Linked DNA regions of Homo sapiens: all the other regions are linked to region 2. The links come from fine-mapping of genetic effects on gene expression. A gene starts in region 2. Each other region holds a variant in brackets. All regions are shown on one strand. Distances are from middle to middle. Region 1 overlaps LRP6 (LDL receptor related protein 6). Region 2 holds the start of LRP6 (LDL receptor related protein 6). Region 3 overlaps LRP6 (LDL receptor related protein 6). Region 4 overlaps BCL2L14 (BCL2 like 14). Region 5 overlaps LRP6 (LDL receptor related protein 6). Region 6 overlaps LRP6 (LDL receptor related protein 6). Region 7 overlaps MANSC1 (MANSC domain containing 1).

Region 1 (4,250 bases), 94 kb before region 2:
ATTAAAATTTTATTAATGACATTTATGGTTTTTTTTTTAATACTAGGTCTCTTAGAATGTGTTTTACAATTAAAGTACATCCTAATTCAACCTAGGCACATTTTAAGTTCTGCAGAGCCACATGTAATTAGTGGCTACATATTGCACTGTGCTGGATTAGAGTCTTCAGAGTGGTGACTACATACAGCCTATAATAAAATTAATTGGTTCCTTTTTTAGTTTACATCACTGTCCCCTCTATACCTGTCACCTTCAGGCTTACCTCAGATCGATCAGGCTCACTAAAGCTTCAAACAAATGTCTTTTATTTGGTCTTTCTTTCTTCCAAGCTATATACTATTTAATTCTAATATGAAGTTAAAATTACTTCACACACACACACACACACACACACACACACACACACACACGTCTTAGATGAAAAAAACTACTTTTTTTCTTCTTGTCACATTTGCAAGTTTACATATAAAACACTAGCTAAGAGGTTAGTTAGAAGGAGCAACAAAGACCTGATTCTTTCATTTATTTTAGGCTATGTCAAAAAGGAAGTATTAAGACCATAGATATATTATTAGAAAACCCATTTCTGCCATCTCCTTAGCCCTCCTGCTTAAGACACGCTGCAGTCTAGATCAGCCATGTACTAACAATGGTTAAAACTAGGTAGTTCATGGTCGTCTCTACTCTGCTTTCTATACTCTGACATTTTCCATAATTTTTAAAAAATGAAGAGAAAAAGCTAAGAAGCAAGTCCAAGGACACACAAATAATAATGATGATGATAACTGCTGTTATTAATAAATGCTATTATTGGCCGAGCGCGGTGGCTCACGCCTGTAATCCCAGCACTTTGGGAGGCCAAGGAGGGCGGATCACCAGGTCAGGAGATCAAGACCATCCTGGCTAACATGGTGAAACTCCATCTCTACTAAAAACACACACACAAAAAACTAGCCAGGCGTGGTGGCGGGTGCCCGTAGTCCCAGCTACTCAGGAGGTTGAGGCAGGAGGATGGCGTGAACCCGGGAGGTGGAGCTTGCAGTGCACCGAGACTGTGCCACTGCACTCCAGCCTGGGCGACAGAGTGAAACTCAGTCTCAAAAAAAAATAAAATAAATAAATAAATAAATAAATAAATAAATAAATAAACGCTATTATCATTTTTGTTAGTATGGTATAGAAAGGAATTATAAGGATCCTCCGAAGAGATTAAGGGATCACCAGCTTAAACAATATCTGACTGTGAGACTTTGCATCTAAACACACAGATAATGTATTTTCCTTCACACAAAGTCCAATTTCTGAAATGTTTCCTTCCATTACTTTTGTAGAGGTGACACTATTAGAAAACTGACTTCTCCACTAAGTATTTCTCTTGTACCAGCCACACAATCTTTTTCTACCGGGCACAAGTTAACCATAGTGAAATAAGAACATGTTGCTCTGTCTTAAAGAAATCACTATTCCATTTCTCATATTCCTGTAAAAGTTTTGGACAGGTTACTAGGTCTATAAATACAGTTTAAGCTCCTTATGTTTAAAATAACACAAATCCTGGCAAAAGCTTGTTTGTATATTCTGAACCCAGAACAAATGAACCACTTTAGGCAATTCCAAAAGATTACACTTATGCTTTAAAAACTGTGCCAATGTTAATTAAATCTGACAACTCTTAAGGGTGTACTTCACTGTATTACCTCAGAGTGGTTTAATTAGTTAAACTGAAATTAGGCTTCTGTCACTTCTAAAATCTAACTCCAAATCTGAACCAGAGTCTCCAGTGGTTTCAGCTGCTTTGACCACACTGTGGCACATTGGTTTAACATTCTGAAATATTCTAAACCACACTGAGAATATAGGCTACAAGAGGAAATAGACGTGGGTTAACCATAACATTATCTGCACAAAGAAGAAGTAATGGCAAATCTTCTACAGACATCACATCCAGTTTTTGAGTCATTTCATCAGCTCATTAAATGTCAAGACAGGACTGCCCATGCAATCTTGGAATGCAGCCAGTCTACTACCAAAATTGCTGCTATGCAACTTCACTTGACAAGACAAGTTCAAGGAACAGATGCAGGAGGACAACCAAGCAACCACCATAAAATGTGCTAGAGTTGGAATGCTATAAAGTTCTAGAAGAGAAACTCAAATTATGCCCAAAATGAACCACTCCTCTTCTAATGTTCCAGACAATATCCAAAACAAGCAGTGAATTAAAAGCTTATACATAAGGAAGACAGATATGACTGAGGGTTGGGGAGCATATTTTTTCTGATACAACTTCATAGAACATAAAATATAATTTCACACAAATGGGATTTTAAAACACAGAATATTTATCCACGGAAATAACATTTCAATCATGCCAAATCTCACTGAGATGACAAGTATAAAGAAATGCTTTGGACCCAGTAGGTGAAGTAAAGGGACACCACACACCTGTTTGAGAGAGAGGTAGGGGCAATTACAGTGCTATATTCAAAGCCTTTTAACCTACTTCAAGATACATTAAGTCTGAGTACATATAAGTGATTTTAAATATGAAAAGAATTGAAGTATCATAGTTACTCTGGGTAGTTTTATAATATTTTTTGCAAGGAATCAGGCATTGAATATTAAAGATTTGCAATTACTATGCTCTTTTTCTGTTAGAGCTAAAAATTGCTACTGTGACCAAAGCTTTCTAAAACCTGAATTACTCCAGGAAACGAAAAAATT[G/A]AGAACAGAGTTCCAGATGAAGGCATCATGATGACGAATGTCAACATCCTGGTCAATTATACTCAACTGCTTCATAAGACACTTCTGAAAGCCTCACTGTCCTGAGGCCCCAAAAACCTAATAGGGAAAAGATTAACATGTCAACAAGGGAAAACTGCCCTCTCTGCTCTCATTCTTTTTAAGCACAGCTAAAATAAATTCTTTTGTTTTTGGGGGGACAGGGTCTTGCTCTGTTGCCCAAGCTAGAGTTCAGTGGCATGATCTCAGCTCGCTGCAACCTCTGCCTCCCAGACTCAGGTGATCCTCCCACCTCAGCCTCCAGGGTAGCTGGGACTACAGTTGCACACCACAATGCCTAGCTAATTTTTGCATTTTTTATAGAGATGGGGTTTTGCCATGTTGCCCAGGCTTGTCTCAAACTCCTGGGCTCAAGTGATCTTCCCACTTCAGCCTCCCAAGTAGCTGGGACTCCAGGAGTGCACTACCACGCCCAGCTAATTTTTATTTTCTGTAGAGCCGGGGATCTCACTATATTACCCAGGCTGGTTTCAAACTCCTAGCCTCAAGGGATCCAGGGATCCTCCCACCTCAACCCTTCCAAAGTGATAGGATTACAAGTGTGAGCCACTGTGCCCAATAATCAACTAGCAATTTTCAAATAGGAATTCACAAATTTCATTGTTATGCGATGTACCCCAGACACAAAATAACACAACAGGCCAGCACCAGGTTTACAACTCAATGAACATTAAGTCCAAACTCCAGGTGCTCTGCTGAGTTGAGGAATCTAATGATGGAGTTTATCAATATCATTCTTCTCTGATCATATGTTATGAAGATTTGGGGAGAAATATATATCCATACTAACATACAGTACATGTTGTGTGGTAAAGTAGCACAAATGGGCAAATATTTAGGTATTTAAATTAGTTATTTTGAATATTTCTCAAACTGAAGTATAATCAATCTTTCTTTTTTTTTTTTAAGCAGAGTCTTGCTCTGTTGTCCATGCTGGAGTGCAGTGGCCTGATCTCGGCTCACTGCAACCTCCGCCACCCGGGTTCAAGCAATTTTCCTGCCTCAGCCTCCTAAATAGCTGGGATTACAGGCGCATGCCACCACGTTTGGCTAATTTTTGTATTTTTAGTAGAGACGGGGTTTCACCATGTTGGCCAGGCTGGTCTCGAACTCCTGGCCTCCAGTGATCAGCACACCTCAGACTCTCAAAGTGCTGGATTACAGGCGTGAGCCACCGTGCCCAGCCTCAAACTGAAGGTATAATCAATTTTAAGAAACACAATGTTACAAATTGGCAAAGATTCAAAAGGAAGTACTTGTTGATACTTGTCATATTATCAGAACAGCCTTATCTCAACAATAGATTTATTATAATTTCTTAATGAGGAATTAATCTTACAAACCAACAGTAAAAAAAATTATCAACAGGTTCCTATATGTTTTTAACAGTACAAAGGCTAAGATACCAGACAAAGAAACTCCTTTAAAAAAGAAGTTTGAATACTTGG
Region 2 (4,250 bases):
TTTCTGCTACTAATTCAACAGGGCTACAGGACAGAAGGTCTCCCAGACTCTCACATACCCCATCACACCCAGCCAATGTTAAAGCCCCAATTCTTTGTGGGGGAAAAAAATGACCTAAATGCAACAAATCAATCAGATTTTTCTCCTTGGAGTCCAAGGTTGACTAAATATCTTTACTATAACAGAGGATGACATTCTCAAAGAATGAATTAATTCTAAATTATGAACAAAAATATTTTACATCAAAAGACAGTTTTACTTCAAATAATATGTACTCACAGCTAAGTACAGTACTGTTACATATTAGAAGACCACCTTACACCATATTTCGCCACATTTAAAACGAGAGCTCCACTTCTGAAAACTTTGCTAGTGGAAACGAGACAATTTAAACTATTACCTCTTCCAGGTCTTGTTACATAAATAAGTGCAACCTATCTAAATTCCAATAATGAACAAACCCAGCTCTGGTCTCAAAGCTGGTGTTAAACAAACGGCATTTACATCACACGCTTCTCCTCCAAGAAATACAACTAGACAACCAGAAACATCCCAAGTTATAAGTTTTCCCACGACTCTAACCAATCAGCTGGTTCTCATATTTGTCAGCCCTATTAACCTTATGTCTTAAAATACATACATATTCTTATGTCAAATATAGTTGTTTCTAACAGCTACAGCAAAACCCCTTTCAATAGAGTATGCCAATAATAAAATAAGTATATACTTATGAAACCTCTCCAGTACGTAACACTTCATTAAAATTTCTGCCACAAAAATCTAATGAACACTACCTTTCCGGGGTTTACATGTGGGAAAACTTTGTAATATGCTTAGAGTATCAAGTAATATAACATGCAAACACAATGCTGCATTACTACAGAGTAACTGAAGAAAGTATTTCTCCTCCTCCAAAAAAAAACTCAATCATTCTCATCCGAAATACATATACACAGTACACGCAAAAATATACACCTGTCACAGACTATTAGTTACTATTAGTGTTCTGTAAACTTAAATTAGTTTGGAGAACTTAACAAAAGTTTAGCTTGTTAACACCTAAAAATCTCCAGCGACCAGCGGTCACATGCCTGAAAAGAACTTACTATGAACGCCAGTAAGAACTTTACCAAACCAAAACTACAAGCCACCGTATCGAGCAGTACTTAAATTCCTCTGCTGGTAAATGCTCCACAGCCATCACAGCCATCTCAAGTTCAACACTAAATAGTTTGAGAAGAGCTGCCGACGGGCCAGTCAAAAATCTTTGTGAACTGTCACAAAAGTCACAGAGCATGTGTCAGCTTTGCAGTCCAATTCAAAACATCATAGTGCCATCGAATTCAAGCGATTCCCAGAGCAAATTATCTCGAACAGCCTATGCAATTTACCAAAGTGCCAAGCAGTCCCCAGGGGTGCAGAGCAAATTATCATTTTGGTCCCAGGACCGGCTCCTCTTCACACGAGGATGAATTTCCCTACTTAGTGCCAACTGTACACTTGCATACTCCGAAAATAGGGGCAAGCCGTGAATACCAGAGGTTACAAGGGCAATGTTTTATTTTATTATGGGCTGAAGCTCAGAAGGCTCCCAATGCTGAAACGCTCGACCTATAACCCCGGAGTCACTTTCCAACTGCGCTCTCACCCAGGGTCATTATATCCCAAACGGAAGCCAATCATTACCTGTAACAAGGCCTGGAAAAAATAGCAAGAGGGCTTTAAAAGTTCACCTAAGAAACACCGAAACGGGGTGGGGAGTGGGTGGCGGGGCTTCGATGGATAAGGCCAACCTTAAAGCATCTCGGACTCAAACATTTTAAAAGCCAAAATACGTACAAAGACCCTTTTCCCTGGAAGACCCCAGGCAGAGAGAGGCACACAGACACTCAGTCATCCCGACAGCATGGGGTGCCAAGGGTTCCCTAAGACCAGCAGCCGGGATCGAAGCTCCGATGTGTCCGGGGAAGGTCTGGGAAGCCAGGCCAGGTCCGCATTGTGGCCGGGCGGTGCACGCAGCCCCTGCTCCCGGGCCCCTTTCTCTCCCCCTCCCCACGACCAGGCCTCTCCCCGCTCCTCTCCCCTTCTCCCTTCCTCCGTCCCTCCCCTCCCCCTAGACACATACAACAAGGCCACCTCCCCCCGAACCCCACCAACTTTCCAGTGCCCCCACTCTTCCCACCTCTCAGGAGCACACAGAAGCTGCAGGCCAGGAGGCTCCTCAGGACGGCCCCCATCTTCCCTTCTCGCGTTCTCTTCTCTCACCGGCGAGGGGTGGCCAGAAGTGGGGGAGGCGAGGAGCCGGGGCGGCCGCCGCAGCGGCAGGGCTGCACGCTCATACTTCCCAGCTTCCCAGCGAGAGAAGAAAGAAAGGGGCACGTCAAGGTTCCGCGCGCGCCGCCGCCGCCCTCTCTACCGCGCCGCTCGGCCCCGGGCTCGCGCGACGCCAGCGTCTGCTTCCATCCCGCCGCCTCCTCCCCCGGCGCCCCGCTTCCCCCGCGCAGCTCCTCATTCAGCCTCTGCCTCGCGCAGCGGCGCAGGGATACGGTCGGCACCGCCTCCTAGGGTCGCCGCGACCGTGTCCCTGCGCGCAACGAGCCCCTTCTCCCGGTACTGCCTCCTGTACGGCCAGGGAAGGGAGTCGGCAACCGCACGCACAGCCTCTGCCTGAGACCCTGGGAGAGGTTCTGGGCTAGCAGAGGCGAACTGGGAGGGAAAGCCTCCTCCCGGTGGCGCATTCCAGCGGGATTCTTTCCCGGACCGGCCGCTTCGGCCCTCCCCGCGGAGGGCGTGAGGCGGCGTTGAACAACATTGGAGCCGGCGTGGTCGGGACTACTTTCTGCGGCTCGGCCGGGCAGCCGTCTGCCCCGCTCTTTGTGCGGCCGCCGCCGGCAGGGCCAGGTGGGGCTCCGGTCTCGCGCCCCCAGCCACCTGAGACTGCCCAGCCGCGGTGCACGCGCGGGGAGCCACGGCGGATCCCGTTGCGGGGTGATGAGCTCCGTCTTCGGGGTTGGAAATCGGTTTCAGCATCCTTTTTTTGGGAGGGCGGAATTTTTGAACGCTGTTTACACCGGCTTTCAGCGTGGATCTGGTGAACGATATTAAAACGCCAATTCAAAACTGAGATTGTCATTTTTCTCCCGCCTTCCCAGAAATACAAACTGCCCCCAGAATTAAGCCCGACCAGCTAAAGATTTCTAAACTGGCAGATAAAATTCCAAGATAAATGCCTCAAAACCTAAGAGCAAAGGGACAATTGGACAAGACTATTTAGGATTTTACAAGTTGCATATAATAACGAATGTTTGGCATGCTTCGATTATCAATTCTCAGCTTGAGAAGGAAAAGATTCCCTAGAATCTCAGACTGTGCACAGCCTCTGCTACTCCCAGTGCATTGGGCATTCAGGAGTAATGGCCCAGACGCCCCCTGAAATCACCTGCCAGGCTTTCGTCTGGGCAGAGGCGCTCCAACAGTTAACCCTAATGGAGCCATCAGATGCATCCTGCCCAGCTGTCACACGCCCTTACCTGGAGGCAGATGGGCAAGAAAGTGGAGCTGCTACCACAATGTTAACAAGTACCTCAGTGACATTGGAGTTCACTAGTGCTTGAACACAAGTTATCATATTTGACACTCAAAACTACCCTGGGGAAAGGCAGGTTTTGTTACTTATTCTTTATTGCACAGAGGAGCAAAATGAGAACCTGAGAGGTTAATGACTTACCCAGGGCCACTCAAGTAATGAATAGCAGTACCTCAGCCCAATCCAGGTCTCTGACTTAAGCCACTCCGCTCCTTCCAAGAAATGCGCGCTGAACCAAAGGTGCTGCAGGTTTGTAAGTAGATGGACAGCAGAAACAGCCAAATCACTTTCTCCCAAATTCACCTGAGGTCTAGTCACCGTTTATTTAAATGACCTGCTTCTAAGAACCAAGTGAGTTTTGTATTCTGGCTTCCTCAAAGCAGGAAACTGGGCCGGGGGCGGGTGGCTCAGGCCTGTAATCCCAGCACTTTGGGAGGCCGAGGCGGACAGATCACGAGGTCAGGAGTTCGAGACCAGCCTGGTCCAACATGGTGAAACCCCCGTCTCTACTAAAAATACAAAAAAAATTAGCCGGGCATGGTGGCACACGCCTGTCATCCCAGCTGCTCAGGAGGCAGAGGCAGGAGAATGGCTTGAATCCAGGAGGCGCAGGTTGCAGTGAGCCGATATCGCGTCATTACACTCCAGCCTGGGCAACAGAGCA
Region 3 (4,250 bases), 34 kb before region 2:
GTGTCTGGTCTCATATTCATTTGTAATGCTTTCTGGAAAATAATTTTTAAATGGAGTGAAAGGTAGAAGATGAGCTTCATTTTAACTGGGAGGGAAGTAAAGCAAGTAAACATATATTAAGTTTTCAAGATGTCACAATTTCTTATGCCAGGAAAATAAAAATATCTCAAACTGATAATAAGACTAGACACACAAGCCATTTTATACAAATTTACTTTATACATTTTTATTACAATCCAAAGCATTTAATTTATTTGATTAGGTAAGGATAAAACAACAAATCTTCCAAAATATTCACAAGCCCTAATTTGGTAAGTATACTCAATCTGAATTCGGCTTCCCATAATGAAAATGTTCAGTTTCAATAAATCTAGACTAAAGGGATGAAATTTCACCCTTTACAAGATGTAATTACATACACAGGTGACTAATTAAGACATTGAGACTTGAGCTATAAAAACTAAGTGACCCAGATCTATACTAGATCATAAATCATGTCATGATCCTTGAAGTTACTTATATAATCCTATCCATAATTAAAATAAGTCATTAATATACATATTAGCAAGTATGAATAATCCTCAACTATCATGCACATGGTACATGAAAGAATAGACAATATTTTAAAACATGTAAGTCAGAGTTTCTATTCTGGTAATATGGTAAAAAGACAACCAGAAAATACTTCTTTTACAAAACATCTAGAACTACTGGTGAATCTTTTTATTTGATTTGTACATATACACAAAATAAAATATACAAACACCCCTTTAAATGTAGAACTTATCAAGAAAGTAGGAGAAATCTCCTGAGACCAAAAATGAACAGGAAAGTAAAAAGCAGTACATGGCCAGGCGCAGTGGCTCACGCCTGTAATCCCAGCACTTTGGGAAGCCAAGGTGGGCAGATCACAAGGTCAGGAGTTCGCGACCAGCCTGGCCAATATGGTAAAACCCCGTCTCTACTAAAAATACAAAAATTAGCCGGGTGTGATGGCAGGCGCCTGTAATCCCAGCTACTTGGGAGGCTGAGGCAGGAGAATGGCTTGAACCTGGGTGGCGGAGGTTGCAGCAAGCCGAGATCGTGACACTACACTCTAGCCTGGATGACAGAGCAAGACTCCATCTCAAAAAAAAAAAAAAAAAAAAAAAAAAAAGCAGTACATGTTTGACCTGATGCTATGACGACCCTGGATTTTCTGATTTCAGAAACTGAGAAACTTCTGTTCCAATGACAAGCCAGAGAAGATCTTGGCACACAAGACACAGTGTTAGAAGTAAGATTCCTGCACAAAGCATGGACTCTCAAAGAACAATGAAGTAGAAAGATCTGCCCACTGGCAGAGGGACACAGGAAGCCTTTTTTGTCTTGCCCTAGGCTCTGAAAAGGTAGGAAAGATCACCAAAGATTTCATAATCATAAGACTGCCCCTACATAGGTTTAGAGTTTGATTTATTCTATCCACATAGTACAGAAACTCCCAACTTCAAAAATTAAATATAAAAAATGACTTCTGCTTGAATAAGGCAATGATAACATTTGATAACTCATTTACCAAAACTCAAACTAAGCCGGGCACAGTGGCTCATGCCTGTAGTCCCAGAAGTTTTTAGATCAGCCCAGGAAACGGTTTTTTTTTTGTTTTGTTTTTGTTTAAACAACAACAAAAAAAACTCATGCTGAGCAGCGCAGTGGCTCATGCCTGTAAGCCCAACACTTTGGGAGGCTGAGATGGGCAGATCACTTGAGCCCAGGAATTCAAGTCCATCCTGAGCAACATGGTGAAACCCCATCTCTACAAAAGATATGAAAATTAGCCGGATGTGGTGGCACACACCTACAGTCCTAGCTACTTAGGAGGCTAAGATGGGAGGATTGCTTGAGCTTGGGAGGCAAAGGTTGCAGTGAGCTGAGACTGCGCCACTGACGAAGCGAGACCCTGCCTCAAAAAAAAAAACAAAAACAAAAACAAAAACAAAACTCAAACTTCACACTTGAGATCTGTGCAATTTACTGTATATAAATTATACTTTAAATAGTTAAGTGGTCGGCTGGGCACGGTGGCTCACGACTGTAATCCCAGCACTTTAGGAGACCAAGGTGGGCAGATCACGAGGTCAGGAGATCAAGACCATCCTGGCTAACATGGTGAAACCCTGTCTCTACTAAAAAATACAAAAAATTAGCCGGGCATGGTGGCGGGTGCCTGTAGTCCCAGGTTATTGGGAGGCTGAGGCAGAAGAGTGTCGAGAACCCAGGAGGCAGAGCCTGCAGTGAGCCGAGATCGTACCACTGCACTCCAGCCTGGGCGACAGAGTGAGACGCTGTCTCAAAAAAAAAAAAAAAAATTTAAGTGGTCACTGGAAACACTTCCAGTGAACTTGGCAAAAGCAACCCAAAATCTCTCTGGAGGAATATGCCCCCAAGTCATTCAGAATTCTCAAGGACAGCCTCTCTGAAGATCTGTTCACAGTCCAAAACTATATAAAACACTCGAGGAAACATTTAACCTTAAGCAAGAATCCAGCAGGTG[C/CA]AAAAAAAAAAAAAAACAGAAGTAGATTTTTAAGAACTTCAGAAAACTGAACAACTTGATAGAGATTATAAATATTTAAATGATGAAAACACATAAAAGATGGAATAAAATATATGACACAAGAAAAGACATCATCAAACAATAACATATCTCTAATAAGAAAATACAAGAAGCAATCCTCAGTGCATGCTAAAATAATCAATAGATGAGTGGTTAATAAGGAACTAGGTATTTGGCAAAATACAAAAGGATCATCCCACAAATAACTTAAGGACACAAGAGGAAAGGGCTCAACTTACAAATAAAGATAGTAACTTTCAGGCACTAGAGTCAAAAACCAAATATTATAACAAAAGATGCACCTAACATCCCAACTGCTCAGAAAATCTGACCATCTGAACCTACTGAATAATCTTAGCAACACTACAATATAGGACAACTTCTGATGTGACAAATACAAAGTACTCAGTACTACCTATGAGGCATTCATGTCAAAATGTTAAATCTGTCTCTAATCAAGTCTTCAAATCTTTCTTTCCAAGTAACACAGGGGGATAAAAATAAGTCAAATACCACAATAATTTGTTAGAAAAAAAAATTGTCTGGGCGCGGTGGCTCATGCTTGTAATCCCAGCACTTTGGGAAGCCAAGGTGGGTGGATCACAAGGTCAGGAGATCGAGACCATCCTGGCTAATGCGCTGAAACCCCGCCTCTACTAAAAATACAAAAAAATTAGCCGGGCATGGTGGTGGGTGCTTATAGTCCCAGCTACTCAAGAGGCTGAGACAGGAGAATGGCGTGAACCCGGGAGGCGGAGGTTGCAGTGAGCCAAGATCATGCCACTGCACTCCAGCCTGGGCAACAGAGTCAGACTCCATCTCAAAAAAATAAATGAATGAATGAATGAAAATAAAAAATCTGGGATATTCTATAGGACAGCTGACCCAGTCTTTTCAATTAAGTCAACAAGGTGAGAGATAAAAAGGGAAAGGGGGAGGACCAACTGAACTGCTCTAGAAAAACCACATACAACTTGTAAACCAAATGTTTGGACTCTGATTTCAAACAACCAACTATAAAGCAACATTTCTGAGACACAGATATCTGAGTATGAACAGACTAATTTATAACATTAAAGAATTGTTCATCGCAAGTTGTGTGAAAGACAGTGGCATTATGATTCTAGAAAAAATATTTTTTAGAGATGGAAAATAAAGTATTTACAAGTGAGATATCGATGTGTGAATCTGCTTTAAAATATCTCAGCTAATTAAAAAAAAAACCAGCCTAAAAGCCTACACATAGAGAGTAGTTGAATAAACTATGGTACACTCACACAATGGTATACTATGCACTGGCAAAAAACAATGAGGAAGATCTCTATGAAATGATATGGAATGACATTCAAAATGTTAAGTTTTGGCCGGGCACGGTGGCTCATGCCTGTAATTCCGGCACTTTGGGAGGCCGAGGCAGGCGGATCACAAGGTCAGGAGTTTGAGACCAGCCTGACCAACATGGAGAAACTCCGTCTCTACTAAAAATACAAAATTAGCCAGACGTGGTGGTGAATGCATGTAGTCCCAGCTACTCGGGAGGCTGAGGAAGGAGAATTGCTTTAACCCAGGAGGCGGAGGTTGCCGTGAGCCAAGATCGCACCATTACACTTTAGCGTGGGCAACAAGAGCGAAACTCCATCTCAAAAAAAAAAAAATT
Region 4 (4,250 bases), 170 kb before region 2:
AGAAATTTCCGTTTTCACATGACAACCAGCATATTAACAGACATTGCAAGAATGCTTTAAATGAAGATGATATATAGCTTTTTGATATGAGCCCTGATTTTTCAAAAGCAGAAGAGGCAGCATTGATTTTGTTTTAAAGGCGTGGTAGTTCAAAGGAGGTAAAGCAGAGAGATACCAGGTTCAAGGGAAGGCCGGGAGGTAAAATCAATAGGGTAGAATAATGGGAAAGAAATCAATGAATTGGAGTTTTTTTAAGTGAACATTGCATGCAAGGGAGTCTTCCCTGACCTCCATGCTCCCGTAGCATCCTGAAAAATGACTCGCATTTCCAAAGCACCTCTTCTATGTCCAGCACTATAAAGTGTTCAACTACCCTATAGTATAGGGCCAAGCACAGTGGCTCACACTTGTAATCCCAGCTCCTGGGGAGGCCGAGGTGGGAGGATCGCTTGAGGCCAGGAGTTTGAGACCAGCCTGGGCAATATAGTAAGCCTTGTCCCTAAAAAACAATAATAATAAAAGTTTCTTAAGAAAATGAAGGCTGGGTACGGGCACAGTGGCCCACACCTGTAATCCCAGCACTTTGGGAGGCCGAGGCAGGTGGATCACCTAAGGTTAGGAGTTCAAGACCAGCCTTACCAACATGATGAAACCCTGTCTCTACTAAAAATACAAAAATTAGCCGGGTGTGGTGGTGTGTGCCAGTAATCCCAGCTACTTGGGAGGCTGAGACAGGAGAGTTGCTTGAACCTGGGAGGCGGAGGTTGCAGTGAGCTGAGATCGCGCCTCTGCACTCCAGTCTGGGCAAGAGAGTGAGACTCCATCTCAGAAAAAAAAAAAAGAAAGAAAGAAAAGAAAAGAAAATGAAGACTGGGTGCAGGGACTCATGCCTGTAATCCCAACACTTTGGGGAGGCTGAGGTGGGTGGATCGCTTAAGCCCAGGAGTGGGCAACATGGCGAAACTCTATCTCTACAAAAAAATAGAAAAAAATTAGCCAGGTGTGGTGGCATGCACCTGTAGTCCCATCTACTTGGGAGGCTGAGGCAAGAGAATCACTTGAGCCCAGGAGGCAGAGGTTGCAGTGAGCTGAGACCACACCACTGCACTCCAGCCTGGGCAATGGGAGTGAAACCCTGTCTTAAAAAAAAAAAAAAGAAAGAAAACAATTACCCTATAGTATCAATACTATCACCATCCTAGTTTAGAGATGACAAACTGAATCTGAGAGGTTAATTTCCCCAAGATTGCATAGCTAAGTAAGAGGTGGACCCAGGGGTTTGAGCCAAGACAGTGATTCCTAAGCTTCAGATCCTGTCCCTTACACTACTTCTAGCAAAGGACATCACATTTTTCTGCAATTCCCACTAGACTGTGAGCCCTTTGAGTGAGGACCCGCATCTCAGTCATCCATACTACCTGCCCATTATAAGTGCTCAGGAAATATTTGTTAAATGTCAAATGAACTGACTGTTCCATTTTATACATGTATTTGTGCTGATGAAATGAATTCACCGAGCAGTACATGCCCATTCTGGTTCTGCAGGACACTGCCTTCATCCCCATTCCCTTGGTTGACACCAGCATCCAGGGTTTTCCACAGGATGGTTTGATGGCCTGCATTTGAGCTAAAGAATGAACTTCTGTCTGCCTCGTGGAGCCAAGCTACTGTACTGAGTGCTTATTCTTTTGTACACAGCTGAAGAAAGATAAGGCTTTGATGGGCCACTTCCAGGATGGGCTGTCCTACTCTGTTTTCAAGACCATCACAGACCAGGTCCTAATGGGTGTGGACCCCAGGGGAGAATCAGAGGTCAAAGCTCAGGGCTTTAAGGCTGCCCTTGTAATAGACGTCACGGCCAAGCTCACAGCTATTGACAACCACCCGATGAACAGGGTCCTGGGCTTTGGCACCAAGTACCTGAAAGAGAACTTCTCGCCATGGATCCAGCAGCACGGTGGATGGGTAAGCGTATCCTATTTAAAAACAAATTTTCTCAGAACTCAGAAGAGATGGGATGGATTTTTTTTTTTTTTTTAAATGAAGGGAACACATCTATGAAGCAGTTCTCATGAGTTTAGGACACTTGAGTGGCCAGAGATAGATCCCATTGATGGGAACATATTTTTAGTGATTATCTTCATCATCAATAAATATTTACTGAGCTCTCCAAGGGTATGCAGGGTATGTGTGGATGGA[A/G]AGGGACTGGTCAGATGGAACAGGAAATGAGGAGATGCTGAGATAAGAAATGTTTAGATAGACGTAATTTCTGTTTTCACAAATTTTGCAGGCAACGGAAGTCTGGCAGGGAGACAAGGGCAGGCAGACAGTTCCTCACACTTGCAGATACTTAGAGGTCACGGAGACTAAGCCTCATGCAGAGACTCAGGGTTCATGGCATTTTGTCATTGCTGCTTTGACCCAGCCATTTTGAGGGTGACATTTTGATACCAAATAAAAAGCCAACAGTTAAACTTTCATCTATTTTCAATTACCTGGTATCAGTCAAAACAGACCTCTTTCCCTTTTGCCTCAAACCCTCTCCCATCCCTCATCCCCAGTTCCTCAGGTCTCCTTAAGACTGCCATGTTCAAACAGCTACATAAGGTCCACCGTGTCAAAATGTACTACCCCACAACTTTAACTCTCAACAGGCCTAGGCATTCCTAGGCGGACAGACCTTCATCCCACATTATCCTTAGTTCTCTTTCCACTAGAATGGTCCAGGGGCCAGCAGGAGGATTGAGTCGGCTCTAGGCATGGCTGGAGTGACCCTGGGACCTCCACACAGCCTTGGTCTCTTTGCTGATGGAAGGAAAGTGCAGCTGATCTTGCCCAAGGGTCTGAAGTGCCCGCCATGGTCTTCAGTGGCTGCCACGGTCTTCAGTTTCTGTACATTGAGTTCCTTTCTATTTTCCACTTTTGCACCAAGTTTGATAACCCTAAGTGGCTGATCTGAACAACCAAGGCCATTCTTAAGTATTCTAAACTTAAGCTGCCTTAGCTTATTCTAAAAGGAGGACAGGTTCCTCAACATTATTTTAGTTCTACCTATTCTTCTTTCCAGGATTCCTTCACCCCAACAACCCCCTTGAGCCCTCATCTGCCCCAAAGCCTCTCCTGACCCTTCCAGCTCAAAGGCTGCACAGTCTCTAATCTCCAGCACTTCATGTTTGCACCATAATAATATACAAAAGATGATCAAATTCCCAATTGACTATGTTTCAAGCATTCATTTTAAAAATCATTGTTAGTCCTCTTAATATATTTTCTCAGAGAAATTATAATTATCAATTGGGTTCACAGGCTAGCTCTCAAAAATCTGTTTAACCCACTAATGTAGCTAAAATACCATAAATATGCTATTAAAAAGCAGTGGTTCTACACCAAAAGCACAAGCAACAAAAGAAAGAATAGATACATTGGATTTTGTTTTGTGCTTCCAAGAACACCACCACCAAGAATGTGAAAAAAAAAAAAAAACAACCCACAGAATGGGGAAAAATACTTGCAAATAAAATCTCTAATAAAAGACATATCTAAATACATAATGAACTATTATAATTGAACAATAAAATGTCAAATAACCCAATTTTCAAATGAGCAATGGATTTGAATAGACATTTCTCCAAAGAATATATATAAATGGCTAAAAGCACATGAAAAGACGCTTGTTTGACATCTTCATTTCAACAGTAGGAAAATGCAAATCAAAGCAACATTGAGCTCTATCCACTACAGTGGCTAAAATGAAAAAGAAAAGCATTGACGTCGGTGAGGATGTGGAGAAATTGGAACCTTTTATGTTGCTGGTTGGATTGTAAAATGGTGCAGTCCCTTTGGAAAACCACTTGGGAGTTCCCAAAAATGTTAACTATGAAGTTACCAATTCCAGGGGCCGGGCGCAGTGGCTCACGCCTGTAATCCCAGCACTTTGGGAGGCCGAGGCGGGTGGATCACGAGGTCAGGAGATCGAGACCATCCTGGCTAACACGGTGAAACCCCGTCTCTACTAAAAATACAAAAAAATTAGCCGGGCATGGTGGCAGGTGCCTGTAGTCCCAGCTACTCAGGGGGGCTGAGGTAGGAGAATGGTGTAAACCTGGGAGGCGGAGCTTGCAGTGAGCCAAGATCGCGCCACTGCACTCCAGCCTGGGAGAGAGAGCGAGACTCTGTCTCAAAAAATAAAAAAAATTAAAAAAAATAAAGTTACCAGTTCCACTCCTGGATATATACCCAAGAAAGTTGAA
Region 5 (4,250 bases), 87 kb before region 2:
GGGAGATGAAAAGCTGGTAGTAGCAGTTGCTCCTAGAATCACTACTAGTCTCAGGATGGAAAACCCCAGATTTTCTCCCCGAGTTATGCAGGACTAATTTAGACGAAGAGCTGCACTCTTTCTTTAGTTTGCCAAGTATCAGATTTTACATCAACATAAGAAGAGAATAAATAACTATATGCTGTATTTCCTAGACGTGCCTATGTAAATAAAATGACAAAGGCTCTGATGTCCTAATAGTGAATTAGGACATCAGAATCTCCAGGGGAAATTATAAAGGGAGGTCTTCATGTATACAGAAGTAAATTTACCACAAACATCAATCTATAAAAAGGGGACAAAAAACAAACAGCAGTTGTGTTCCAGCAAACCTAGAAGGAGAAAGATGGATCTAAAAATAAGATTTATGGGTGACAGAGCCTTTGCAGATTAAAAGAACGAATGAATGAAGGAACAAATGAACGAATGAACGAATGAATGAAAAAAATTAAAAACAGGTTTAAGGATGCTGGTACCATACAGGGAAGAAGGAAAGAAGGGGTGACGGAGCCAATGACACCACTGTATGTATGTGTCTGTATGTATATATATATATATGCATAGCTCAAGAAAACATAACAAAGAGGCCAGAAAAGGAATTCTAATTTTAAAATCTACTGCACTCACTGCAAACTAGGAAAATAAATCCTATTTAATCAATGTTATATATTGTTATATAAAGTGTATTAATTTTTATTCTTAAAGATGGTCACTCAGAACCTCCATAAATTGTAATGTCTTTATCTGAATCCCTTCTGAACTATTTGTTATTCTGAATAAATTTCTGTATCTAAAGTATTATACCTAAAGTGAGGAAAATAAGACTTGAAATATTCCCAGTAAGAAACAAATGATTTTATTTTCAGGCTAATCAGTCAGTTATAGCAGACTAAGATGGGCAAAACCAAATACGGAATTTTAAAAACCCTACATGATAATAAATTTGGTGCATTCCCTTACGTAAATTTTCTTGCTACAGATATTCTTCTAAAACTTATGGGCTTTAAACTGTTTTCCTAAGCATACTCGTACCTATACACTCATGTATAGTTCATAATCCACAGGTGTGAACTAGATGGGATTAGGTAGGCAATCTATATTCAAGCTGACCAAAATGAAGCTAAAAGCCTGTCTGAAACATAAACTCATAACCTTTGTCTCATCAGCAATGCACTCCAACTGTTAAAAGATTCAAACATCAACTTGGATTTGAAAAGAGTGGGAGGCAGTGAAATACTAACAGGGAGAAAATTTATGGAGTCTATGCAAAATTTTCTATTAATGAAAACCAGCTGCAAGAACAACAGATGCCGTTTTCAGTATTTGAGCCTGGTGGAATACTAACGGGGTTTCTTCTATTCCAAGTTTCCATTTTGGAAGCAAGGCCTTGAAGTCATTATTCCCTCAGGGTCATGGGCACTCTACAGAATACCTTTCCAAAACAACTGTTCTAGAGTCTGAATTTTCTGTCCATTAGATGTGTACAGTGTCTCTCTGAAGAGCCATTTAAAGCCATCCTTGTATGTGAAGTTTCCCCCAAAGGAAAATTGAGACCTAACTCTGTTCTATCTATGTGATCCATAAGACCTGTAGCAAAGTCTAATTCAAAGTTGTTAATTTTAGACTTAACACCAATATCAGGGATATAGGCCACTAATAAAACACTGTGATAAAATATTAATCACTGATTATTTTCACCATAATCTATTTGATTGCCACAAACTTAACTCTACCACTTGGTAAATATTTTTTCCCAAGCTTTGGTTAATTAGTCTTGTTCCCACACAGCCCATAAATCAATTTTAAAATTGTTTGCATGTAACCATCATAATATTTAATATATTCTACCATCTGCCCCAACACCAGTTAACAGCAATAAAAGATATAGATATAGATATAGATATAGATATAGATATAGATATAGA[TATAG/T]ATATAGATATACACATACATGTGGGCTTTGTTTTCCTAACTTAGGACAGCCAGTTCTTCCAGTATAGATCTTACATAATTTTGGTTTGCAGAAATTGCCCCTAGGAAATTCAGAAAGTGGCTTTACCCAAAATGAGGAAAATCACTTACATAAGCTTTTAAGACTAGAAACTGATCAGCAGCCATTTCTCATACCAATACATCTCTCCATCCTAGGATTATGTGGAAGAGAATATATTATCCCTAGAATCATGAAGGTTGAGTAAAATTTCTGTAAAAGGTACCTTTGGCACCCCAGACAACTGTTAAGAAAAAAGAATATCTGTACTCAAATCATTATACTGTCGACTCAAAACCCATTATAAAAGTGGCTTGAAAATGAAAAAGCAAAAAACAAACCTCAATCTTGTCTGTTTTGGCATCTCCCCAGTATATTTTGCCTTCATCATAATCCAAGGCTAAACCATTTGGCCAACCAAGAGAAGTGTTAACCAATACTACACGGTCAGAACCATCCAGAGCTGCTCGCTCAATTTTCGGAATTTCTCCCCAGTCAGTCCAATACATGTACCTAGAGAAGTATACAAAAAATGAGCTAAAAATAGATAATAAAATGTAACTTTCAGATATTCTAAAGGTGAGATCCATCCCTCCTATTACACTGGTATCATCAGTTAATGCCAAGGAAGGGGAAAAAAAAAAAAACATATGAAGAGGTGTTTAAGACATTTATCCCAGCAATATATAAGATTGTGGGAAATTTTCAGATCAGTGTGTTCTAGAGCCAATCCTGAAAATGCCTCCCAATAATGAGATTACAGTTTTACTTCTTTTTTTTTTTTTTTTTTTTAAATATTTTGTGTGCCCTTTTCCATGAACTTTCTCTCTCTTTTCCTTGATGGCTTGTCATCTCTCTGACACAAAAGGCTTATCCCAGCAGTATTAGTCAGATGGCAAACTGAATTCTCAAAATAACTATTTCTTCCTGCAGTGCTAAGTGATTCTTACGGCTCCTGGATGTTTAGATGGCTCTAAGGCATTGGTATATACTGAGGTGTAATTTGTCACTATGCTTGTCCTCAGAATAAATCTCAAAGTAACAAAATTGTTGAGTATGTAAAAAGTTGTACTTCCCTGGACTATGATCAGGGTGGCATGGCAAAACAAAACAAACAACAACAACAAACTAGAAGTAAAGCTGCATGGGCTGGCAAAGTTTTGGAAATCAAGTCATTCATGTATTTAGGGAAAAAAAAGTAAGCTATATTCTTACTATAAAGTACTGAAAATGGAATTAAAGCTTCTAGGGGAAGGGAAAGAGTTCTGAAAACAATTTCTTCCCACATTTTTCATGGTAATGATGCAATCCGAGCAAAATCTGCAGACAACACCCAAAGTCAGCAAACATGGACTTAATTTAGAAAGAAAAAATATCTAAGACATCCAAGGCAAAAAACTAGCAATTTTTAAACTTGAGATTGTATTCTAATCACCATATCCTAAAATAGACAGCCATTAAAGAGCTGTTTACTGGAAACCAATATATATGTCATGTTATCTTAGTCAATGTTTTCAGGAACCTGTGAAAAACAGAAACACCACACAGAATTTACTATCAGTAGAGCTTCTTACCCAACCATGGGATCTAACACAATAGCCCGGGGTTCCTCTAAGTCCTCTGAAATCAAGATCTTCCTCATGGTCCCATTGAGCCTTGTCACTTCTATTCGATCAGTGCCAGTGTCTGTCCAATAAAGATTTCGTGCAACCCAGTCCACAGCAATACCATCAGGATGGGCAATTTGAGCAGTGACCACAAACTGACTGCCAGATCCATCTATAAATGAACGGCGTATGGCCCTCACTTCATCATCAGTCCAGTAGATGTAGCCTTCCACAGGATCGTAATCTATGGCAATGGCATGACGGATGTCTTCTAACTGCAGAACAATGTCTGTAAAATCTGGTGTATCCAAAGAAATGCGTCTCAAGTCTGTCCTTCGAGCTAAAAGCAATAATTCTGTGGCACCTAGAACAACAAAGTGAAATGAAGAATACTTTGAAACCCAGAGGTAAAATTTACCTGCTCTAGATAAAGAATCAAGAACTGAAAAATAAATATAAAATATACATAAATTAACACAAAAGGATGTGCACTCTCTTTAGAGTGGAAATGGAAAGTAATACAGTGAAATAGAAGAGTCTACTCTGAGGTCAAGCTGTTTAATGGCTAACTCTCCAAATTAAGTTGTGATACATTCTATGGTTTCATTGGAATTAAT
Region 6 (4,250 bases), 57 kb before region 2:
CACAAAAAATTAGCTGGGCATGATGGTGTGCACCTGTAGTCCCAGCTACTCAGGAGGCTGAGGCAGGGGAGGCTGAGGCAGGGGAATCGCCTGAACCTGGGAGGCAGAGGATGCAGTGAGCCAAGATTGCACCACCGCACTTTTGAGATTCCGTCAAAAAAATAATAATAATAATATTAATAATAATAACGCTTTCAGTGGCAGGCATCACGAGGGCCATTATCTAACTGACTCTGGTGGGGGCAAGCAACAAAATAGCAAACTAGCCAGAAATCTAACAGGAAGATCCTAGGAAAAAGACTGCCAAGAAGAGCCTTAAGTGGATATTCATGCTTAGTAGTCAGGAAGGCTGTCTGCATGTGTAACGCTACACCAGAAAGAACACTTGCAAGCTAGTCTCTGGCTGAACATGGGTCAAATTTGAAATTGCCTAAAATTTTAAGACATTCTCCAAACCATAAACAGGTCCACAGGAAAATGGGGTAACACTAACTTGCTGGTGTTCAGGAACAACCTTTAAGCAATCATTAGCTGACCACTAAGATAACAGTGACACAGAGGCAATCCCCCAGAAAGCCAGGCATAAGAAATATTTTAAAAGGAAAACAGACCACAGAAGTAATCCAGGAAAGTCATTAAACAAAAACACACAACAATGGCAACAAGCCCAGGGAGCGGTCAGAATCCAGAATCCAGTCAATATAATATATTCATACAATGGAATACTATTCAGCAACATAAAAGAACTACTTATCAATGTCAAGGATGACTTTTTAAAATTATGTTGAACAAAAGAAACCACACATAAAAGAGTACCTACTACGTGATCCCATTATATGAAGCTATAGATGTAAAATCAAAAAGACTAATCTATGATGATAAAACCAGATTCACAGTTACTGGGGAGGAGTAAGGGATTGACTGTAAAGGGGCTTAAGGCACCTTCTGGAGTAGAGTAATGAACGTTTGTCTTAGGTGTATTTATCAAAGCCCATTTAACAATCAACAAAAAAATATGAATTTTTTGCATGTAAATTCTAACTCAGTAAAGTTGCTTAAAACGTGAATAAGAAACATAAACTATTTCAAGAAGTTAATTCAAAGGTAACTTTTCTTAGAAACCTTTCCCAGCTTACTAAGGCAAAGTTATTCCCTCTTCTGAGCTCTTGGCAGGTTTTGTTATATACTATAGTACTTATCAGAGTTTGTAGATAAACTATAAAGAACTCAAAGGTAAAGACTAGGTGTCACTACCACATCACAATGACTGGCACATTGCACGTATTCTTTTTTAAATAAAGATGAATCCAGACCTTGTGCTTTCCATTTTCAATTTCTCCTCTAACCCCCAACTCAGTGCACACTGAAATGGGTAAAGGAAGACACATGAGATGCTACAAGAAGAGAAAGAAGTACAAAAGGTTAATAACCTAAGCATAGGGACAGCCAGAAACAGTGAAATGGTTTTGTGTGCCTATGTCTATTATAATATATGAACTAGATTTCTCCTCAGGATATCTTTAATACACAAATCAATTGATATTTCCATCTTGATAGAGTAATACAGTTAAAAACAAGTCCACAGCACACTTCATTAGCCACCTCCCATCTTTTCTCTATTAATGCATAAAATGAAAACTACCAGTATCTTTAAACAAACAAGTGTAGAGAAATAAGAAGTTACTCTCACTGCAATATCTACTAATCTATACTCTGCGCCGTGTGTGCAACATGCATTACTTGAGATTACGTGATACAAAGTTTGAAATGTTGCCATCACAGGCTGGGCTGACCAGAAGCAATTTGCACACTATAAAGACAGAAAATGCAATAAGGGCTATTGTCTTTCTTGTACAATATAATTTAGGTAGGTTTCCTAACTGTAACTAATCTAAGCATTTAACTTTGTAACTCAGTGTCTAGTTTATGGTGAAATAAAATGTTACAAATGAGTGAGTCAACCTAACAAGATTTTAGTAATGAATAAAAGTATTTGCATGCCACTATGTACCAAAGCTAATGGATAATCCCTTCATTATTCAACCCTAAAAAATAAATCAAGTCATGTTTTTTCAAGGATAAGACCCAGATAAAGATTCCAACTACAATAAGTGAAACTAAGGCATTTGTCAGATGAGAACTTGACGAAAATTAGCATTTTTAAATAGATTACAGATGTGCCTTCATTTGTGCAAATATTTAAAATATAAAGGAATAGATTTCATCTATAAATACTAAACATTTTCATTAACTTTTAAATTAAAAAGCTCATTACAAATGTAACCGAAAAAGCGATTAGGACACAGAAAATTTTTAAAAAGTATTTTTT[A/G]AGTTACCAATATATTATTCAATTTTCTTAAGGTTTTGAACACCTATTAAAGCGGTGAGCACCTATTAGGAGCTAAGCACCATGCCTGATACAGGGAATATGAAAATAAGCAAGGCAAAACTATTGCCCTTACGAAATTCGCAATGTAGACAAGGAGTGGCAAGTATATTGAGGAAGGTATAAACAGGAGGCTCTGAGAGTATAGAGAAGTGACACCCAATCAAGTCAATGAATGTAAGAGTTGTCAATAAAATATACCAGAGAAAGTATGTATTTTACTTAGGCAGTTGCCAAAATGGGAAATAGTGTTCCAGGAAGAGGACATAGCATATGAAGTCATGATATATTCAATAAACAGCAAGAAGATCCATAGAGCTGTAGCATATCGTGAGGTACATTGACAATGAAAGAAATCCCACGTGTATTATTTTACTATACTAAGAAACTTGGACTCCAGTGACAATAACATTGAGGGACTGGCTAGAGGAAGAAGAAACAAGAAAAAGCCAGAAAACTGAAATATTCCAAATAAGAACTAATGAAGGCAACAGAAGTTGAGGACTGGATCAATATGAAAGAGGAATGAGAAAGGATAGACTAGGATGGCTCCCAAGATTTACAAATGTGAATGTGTGTGTATTGGTGTCATTCAACATAATATGGAATTAGATGTGGTTTGGGAGAGCAAGATGATGAGTTCAAATATGGATGAATTGAAGCATCCTCACCTCATTGTTTTTCCTTCTGTATCCAGACCACCAGTCAATAGAATAACAGGAAAATCAGTGTAAAAATAAGTGAAAGTTGGTTAGAAAAGGTAAATAAAGTAAAAAGCATATTAACAGTCAAAGAAGTTGGTCTACAGTAACAGGGCAAAATAAATCACAATTACGAGTTGCATATGAAACTAAGTCAATCCAGAAGTGTTGAGCCATGCTAATTCTAAGAACATTAATGTGACACATGTAAGTAACTCTGAAAGGACCTATAAAAAGCCACAGGTCCTCAAAAACATTTTGTTGCCATCAAATTTATTTTGGGGGAAACTTCAAAAATCACATACATCATTATCAAATTGAAAATGCAGCCAGTGAAAATAGTTCTGATTTTAATGTGAAAAAGAAAAGTGTTGTGTAAAATTCACACCCTTCCTGTTACTAACCCCTGAACTTGATTCCTGACCCCATGTTCCTCTCTTACTCCGGTTAGTAGATTAGGCTTTAAGTGAAGAGGAGTTTGAAGAATTTACGGATTTCTGCTTCCTAATAGAAGTGAAAAGAAAAAAAGAATTGTGAAGAAATCGGACCTACTTCTGCACTTCCCCTCTACTTGATCATGTGTTGGTATCATATTTTAAAAACAAGTAGAAATTAATAAAAGAGGATAGTGAAAGCATTCATGTTAGCAGGTTGGTTTCTGTGGTTGTTTTTACAGAGAATATACAGTAACCAGATAAAAGAGTCTGGGCTGGGTGCAGTGGTTCACACCTGTAATCCCGGCACTTTGGGAGGCCAAGATGGGCGGCTAATGATGTCAGCAGTTTGAGACCAGCCCGGCCAACATGGTGAAACCCCAAACCCCAACTTGACTAAAAATACAAAAATTAGTTAGGCGTGGTGGTGGGCACCTGTAATCACAGCTACTTGGGAGGCTGAGGCAGGAGAATCACTTGAACCTGGGAGGTGGAGGTTGCAATGAGCCGAGATCGTGCCACTGCACTCCAGTCTGGGTGACAGAGCAACACTCCGTCTCAAAAAAAGAGAGTCTGGAATGGAATTAGATAGACATGGTTTGGGACGGTAAGATGATGAGTTCAAATACGGACGAACTGAAGCATCCTAACCTCACTGTTTTTCCTTCCGTATCCAGAGTAGGGATGGCTTTGTCATCCCATGTTTTTACCTGTCCCTCAATAGGGATA
Region 7 (4,226 bases), 62 kb after region 2:
TTTTTTTTTGAGATGGGCTCTCGTTCTGTCGCCCAGGCTGGAGTGCAGTGGCGTGATCATGGCTCACTGCAGCCTCGACCTCCTGGGCTCAAGTGATCCTCCCACCTCAGTCTCCCAAAGGGCTGAGATTACAGATGTGAGCCACTATGTGCCTGGCTAAGAGTAGCTTATTTTTATTTTATTTTATTTTATTTTTTTGAGATAGAGTCTTGCTCTGTCGCCTAGGCTGGAGTGCAATGGAGCGATCTTGGCTCACTGCAACCGCCCCCTCCCGGCCTCAAGCAATTATCCTACCTCAGCCTCCCAAGTAGCTGGGATTACAGGTGTCTGCCACCATGCCTGGCTAATTTTTGTATTTCTGTAGAGATGGGGTTTCACCATGTTGGCCAGGCTGGTCTAGAACTCCTGACCTCAGGTGATCCACCCACCTTGGACTCCCAAAGTGCTGGGATTACAGGCGTGAGCCACCACGCCTGGCCAAGAGTAGCTTTTTAACCTAGGTCAGTATCGTGTTGGTAAAATACGGAGAGAGGATGTTTGAGCAGAAGGACCTACCTCATCTTCTCACCTGTTCTAGGCTGCTACCTTCTCTTTCTACAAACCAAAGGAGGGGGCTCATAACTCAATGGGCCTTGTGGGAAAGGCTAACCAGACTAGTCACTGCTGAATTCCTCTAAGGGATTCCCCTACCCTGACTGCCCTTGCCACAGTTGCACCCACCATCCTAGGGGCAGTAAGTAGAGAGAGCTGTGTGAGAAGAGCACTCTTTCCACTCCAGATGTCCCCTACAACCTATATCCTCACGGCCACTAACAGTTTGGGCCCGTAGCATCACTCATCTGGACCGCTCCCATGTGGTCTCCCCATCACAACAAAGACTGCAGCAAGGTGGACAGAGAACTCCAAGAGAGCCAGGAAAATACCTTTATAAACCATCACAGAAAGCCTGATTTCCACTCGCTAAATCCATTAATAAAGAGAGGAGAAATTTTAAAATTCCAAGGCACCTGGTTACTAATCTGATTCTGGCCTACATGTGGATATTCAATAAATACTTGTTAAGTTAAATTGACTCAAGGTTTTATTTATTCAGCCTACTTAAAGCTTATGTAAACCCCTTGGAGATTTGTGTCAAGCTGTTAAGTTGGAAAATATAAGAAAAGTAGTATTTTCAATAGACCAGCTTTCCTCTTAATGTACTTTATGAACTTAGTGTAAACCAGGGAAATGGGGGAGGGGTACCAGAAGAGCAGAGGGGAAGGAGGTGAGGAGGAAGGAAGAGGTGAGGAGGAAGGAGAAGAAAAGCCTTTTCTGTCATTTCCTGCATTTGTCTTAATTGCTGTACTTATTAACCAGCTACTGCCCTCTAGTGCTCACTGTATTAAGTTCGCATCTGAATTCCATTTTTATCTTTAAAAACTCTGGTGACACTTGGAAGGGATCAAATTTCCTGTTTTGCAGATAAGCAAATTGAAGTCCAGAGGAAAGAGGTATCAAACTGACCCAGGGGACTTCTGGACTCTTTGTTACCTCACCTATAACTTGTCTGGAAAACTTTATTAAAAGCCTTTCTCAGAAATTTTAATTGGTAACCAGTAAAAATTGTAGCATCATGTTAGTGCTAGTTATTATTATTATTATTTTTGAGACGGAGTCTGGCTCTGTTGCCCAGGCTGGAGCGCAATGGTGCAATCTGGCTCACCGCAACCTCCGCCTCCTGGATTCAAACTACTCTCCTGCCTCAGCCTCCCAAGTAGCTGGAACTACAGGCGCCCGCCACCACGCCCGGCTAATTTTTTGTATTTTTAGTAGAGGCGGGGTTTCACCGTGTTAGCCAGGATGGTCTCGATCTCCTGACCTCGTGATTTGCCCATCTCGGCCTCCCAAAGTGCTGGGATTACAGGCGTGAGCCACCGCGCCTGGCCTGTGCTAGTTATTATTTCCAATGTTGTTCTAAATTAAGCTTAGACTGATTGCTGGTCAATTTAAGTAAGGATATAAAATAATAGTGGTACATTTTTAACTTAGTACAAGTTTAGAAAATGTCTATAATACTTCTTTAAAAAGTTAACTAGAGGCCGGGCACGGTGGCTCACGCCTGTAATCCCAGCACTTTGGGAGGCCGAGGCGGGCGGATCACAAGGTCAGGAGATCGAGACCATCCTGACTAACACAGTGAAACCCCGTCTTTACTAAAAATATAAAAAATTAGCTGGGCGTGTTGGCGGGCGCCTGTAGTCCCAGCTACT[T/C]GGGAGGCTGAGGCAGGAGAATGGCGGGAACCCAGGAGGCGGAGCTGGCAGTGAGCCGAGATCGCGCCACTGCACTCTAGCCTGGGTGACAGAGCAAGACTCTGTCACACACACACACACACACACACACACACACACACACACACAAGTTAACTAGAACAGATCCCAAGTGGATATGGCCATTTATCAGAACTGACTTATCATTGTCTCCATGTGGGCTAACATTCCGCTAGATTCTCCCAAGTGAAGCTCTTTGCTCACTGATGGGAAAAAGGGGGGGTTGTCATTTTAACGTGGAACGCATATTTTCACCACATAATCATTTTGCTAGTGGAAATAAATGGAAAGTTATCCAGCTGGACATGCTACTTATGAGAACACTACTGAGTAACAAAAGATTTATTCAAATATTTAATTGGAAGGAACTACATCTGGAATAAGTTTTAAAGGAATCCATATAAAAAGAAAAGCAAATCCATTAGAAATTGATATAAACAGTTGATTTTATCTGGAACCAAGAATGTGAATGAATTGGAACCTAGATGTCCTAACCTGTTTCTTTGCATAAAAGCCAGTTGAATTTTGAAATTTATATGGCAATTATACTTTATTACTTTACATAGAGCTTTGTTTTTAGCTAATATTTTAGAGACAGATTACCCAAAATTACCTAATTTGGTTCCCACTTCATTCCTTCTCAAAAACCAAACATAAAACAGAAGGGGGCCAGCTGTGGTGGCTCATGCCTGTAATCCCAGCACTTTGGGAGGCCGAGGAGGGTGGATCACTAGGTCAGGAGTTTGAGACCAGCCTGACCAACATGGTGAAACCCCGTCTCTACTAAAAATACAAAAATCACCCAGGTGTGGTGGCACATGCCTGTAATCCCAGATACTTAGGAGGCTGAGGCAGGAGAATCGCTTGAACCCAGGAGACGGAGGTTGCGGTGAGAGCCGAGATCGTGCTACTGCACTCCAGCCTGGGCAACAAAGCAAGACTCTGTCTCCAAAAAAAAAAAAGGAAAGCAGAAGGGGGCATTTTCCTGTCTTCAAAATACAACCTCCTGCTAAGACTAGCAAGTCAGCAGAAACTCATTGCATTTGGGCTTCTGGTTACTAAATGAATTAAGAGACACCGAGTTCCATCCTTAGATGTCCACATAGATCCCATTGATCAAATAATCCAGTCTTGAGTAACGTTTCCTGCGGAGTGATTCCGAGAGGATTCTACCCAGGAGGACGAGGCCTATCACCAGGAACAGGACACCAAAGAGCAGGGACCCGATAAGAAGCCATTTTTCAAATGGAAGGCCGTACTGATTTTCTGGAACACTGCCCTGGGAGGAACTGCCTGGACTGGCCTCCCTACCTTCCCAGGAAGCAGTTTTATTCATAGTGGAAGACTCCACATTTGACATAGAAAGTGCAGTAGGGTTATACACATTCCCTGTGTTCAAAGTTAGGTTGGAGATTTCTGTAAACGGTATGGTTTCTAAGCTGCCTTTCGAGTCCGTAGGTGCCTGAAAGGTGGTAGTCAGAACTGCTGTTGTAGCCATTGCTTGGAGTGTAGCCGCAGCCCGTGTAAAAACTGTAGAAATGAGGGTCGTGGGAGGCTGAGAAGTGACAGTGGTTACAGGTGGAGCTGTGGTGGCCAGCTGTGGCTGGGAAGTCCCAGAAGGTGTCACTGAAGCATTGGTGGGTAGAAGGGTGGCGGGCTTTGGAGTAGCCGAGGTGGTATGTGGAGAAGCAACTGCCACCGTAGCTGGGAGCGCACTCACATTTTCAGGCAGCAGATGAGCTATTTCTTGATCAGAGGAAAATTGTGAACTCTGAGAATGGCCTTTTTCCTTATAAGCAAGGAGCTGGGCACTTGCTTCATCCATCTTAAATAGTTTCTCCAAGTGATCTGAGGATCCAAACTTCTGAGAAAGTGTGTCTCTCCATGAGATATCGGTGGGCTTTGAATAATCTGTGTGAT

The links. PIP is the estimated chance that this variant, and not a neighbour inherited with it, causes the effect.
Region 1: its variant is fine-mapped to the expression of LRP6 in whole blood (TOPMed, PIP above 0.99).
Region 3: its variant is fine-mapped to the expression of LRP6 in fibroblasts (GENCORD, PIP 0.95).
Region 4: its variant is fine-mapped to the expression of LRP6 in lung (TOPMed, PIP above 0.99).
Region 5: its variant is fine-mapped to the expression of LRP6 in whole blood (INTERVAL, PIP 0.99).
Region 6: its variant is fine-mapped to the expression of LRP6 in whole blood (INTERVAL, PIP above 0.99). The same link has a PIP of 0.9 or more in T cells.
Region 7: its variant is fine-mapped to the expression of LRP6 in whole blood (GTEx, PIP 0.95).

The regions. Positions count from the first base shown.
Region 1 is chr12:12,170,423-12,174,672 of GRCh38, forward strand. All of the region lies in intron 7 of LRP6 (LDL receptor related protein 6), which reads right to left. Among named protein-coding and RNA genes, the nearest start is that of MIR1244-4, 61 kb to the left of the region's middle. RefSeq lists a silencer at 1,786-1,835. The variant G/A (reference allele first, on the strand shown) is at 2,725.
Region 2 is chr12:12,264,499-12,268,748 of GRCh38, forward strand. LRP6 (LDL receptor related protein 6) reads right to left here and starts at 2,546. Exons shown (of 23, transcript NM_002336.3): 1 at 2,183-2,546. The coding sequence starts at 2,237. RefSeq lists a silencer at 2,237-2,546 and enhancers at 2,553-3,189, 2,727-2,776.
Region 3 is chr12:12,230,053-12,234,302 of GRCh38, forward strand. The region is part of intron 2 of LRP6 (LDL receptor related protein 6); the gene reads right to left. Among named protein-coding and RNA genes, the nearest start is that of LRP6, 35 kb to the right of the region's middle. The variant C/CA (reference allele first, on the strand shown) is at 2,534.
Region 4 is chr12:12,092,966-12,097,215 of GRCh38, forward strand. BCL2L14 (BCL2 like 14) reads left to right here. Exons shown (of 6, transcript NM_138723.2): 5 at 1,699-1,965. Among named protein-coding and RNA genes, the nearest start is that of MIR1244-4, 17 kb to the right of the region's middle. The variant A/G (reference allele first, on the strand shown) is at 2,200.
Region 5 is chr12:12,177,443-12,181,692 of GRCh38, forward strand. LRP6 (LDL receptor related protein 6) reads right to left here. Exons shown (of 23, transcript NM_002336.3): 6 at 3,601-3,997; 7 at 2,368-2,539. Among named protein-coding and RNA genes, the nearest start is that of MIR1244-4, 68 kb to the left of the region's middle. The variant TATAG/T (reference allele first, on the strand shown) is at 1,965.
Region 6 is chr12:12,207,361-12,211,610 of GRCh38, forward strand. All of the region lies in intron 2 of LRP6 (LDL receptor related protein 6), which reads right to left. Among named protein-coding and RNA genes, the nearest start is that of LRP6, 58 kb to the right of the region's middle. The variant A/G (reference allele first, on the strand shown) is at 2,330.
Region 7 is chr12:12,326,631-12,330,856 of GRCh38, forward strand. It overlaps MANSC1 (MANSC domain containing 1), which reads right to left. Exons shown (of 4, transcript NM_018050.4): 4 at 1-4,226. The coding sequence ends at 3,397. Among named protein-coding and RNA genes, the nearest start is that of MANSC1, 21 kb to the right of the region's middle. The variant T/C (reference allele first, on the strand shown) is at 2,250.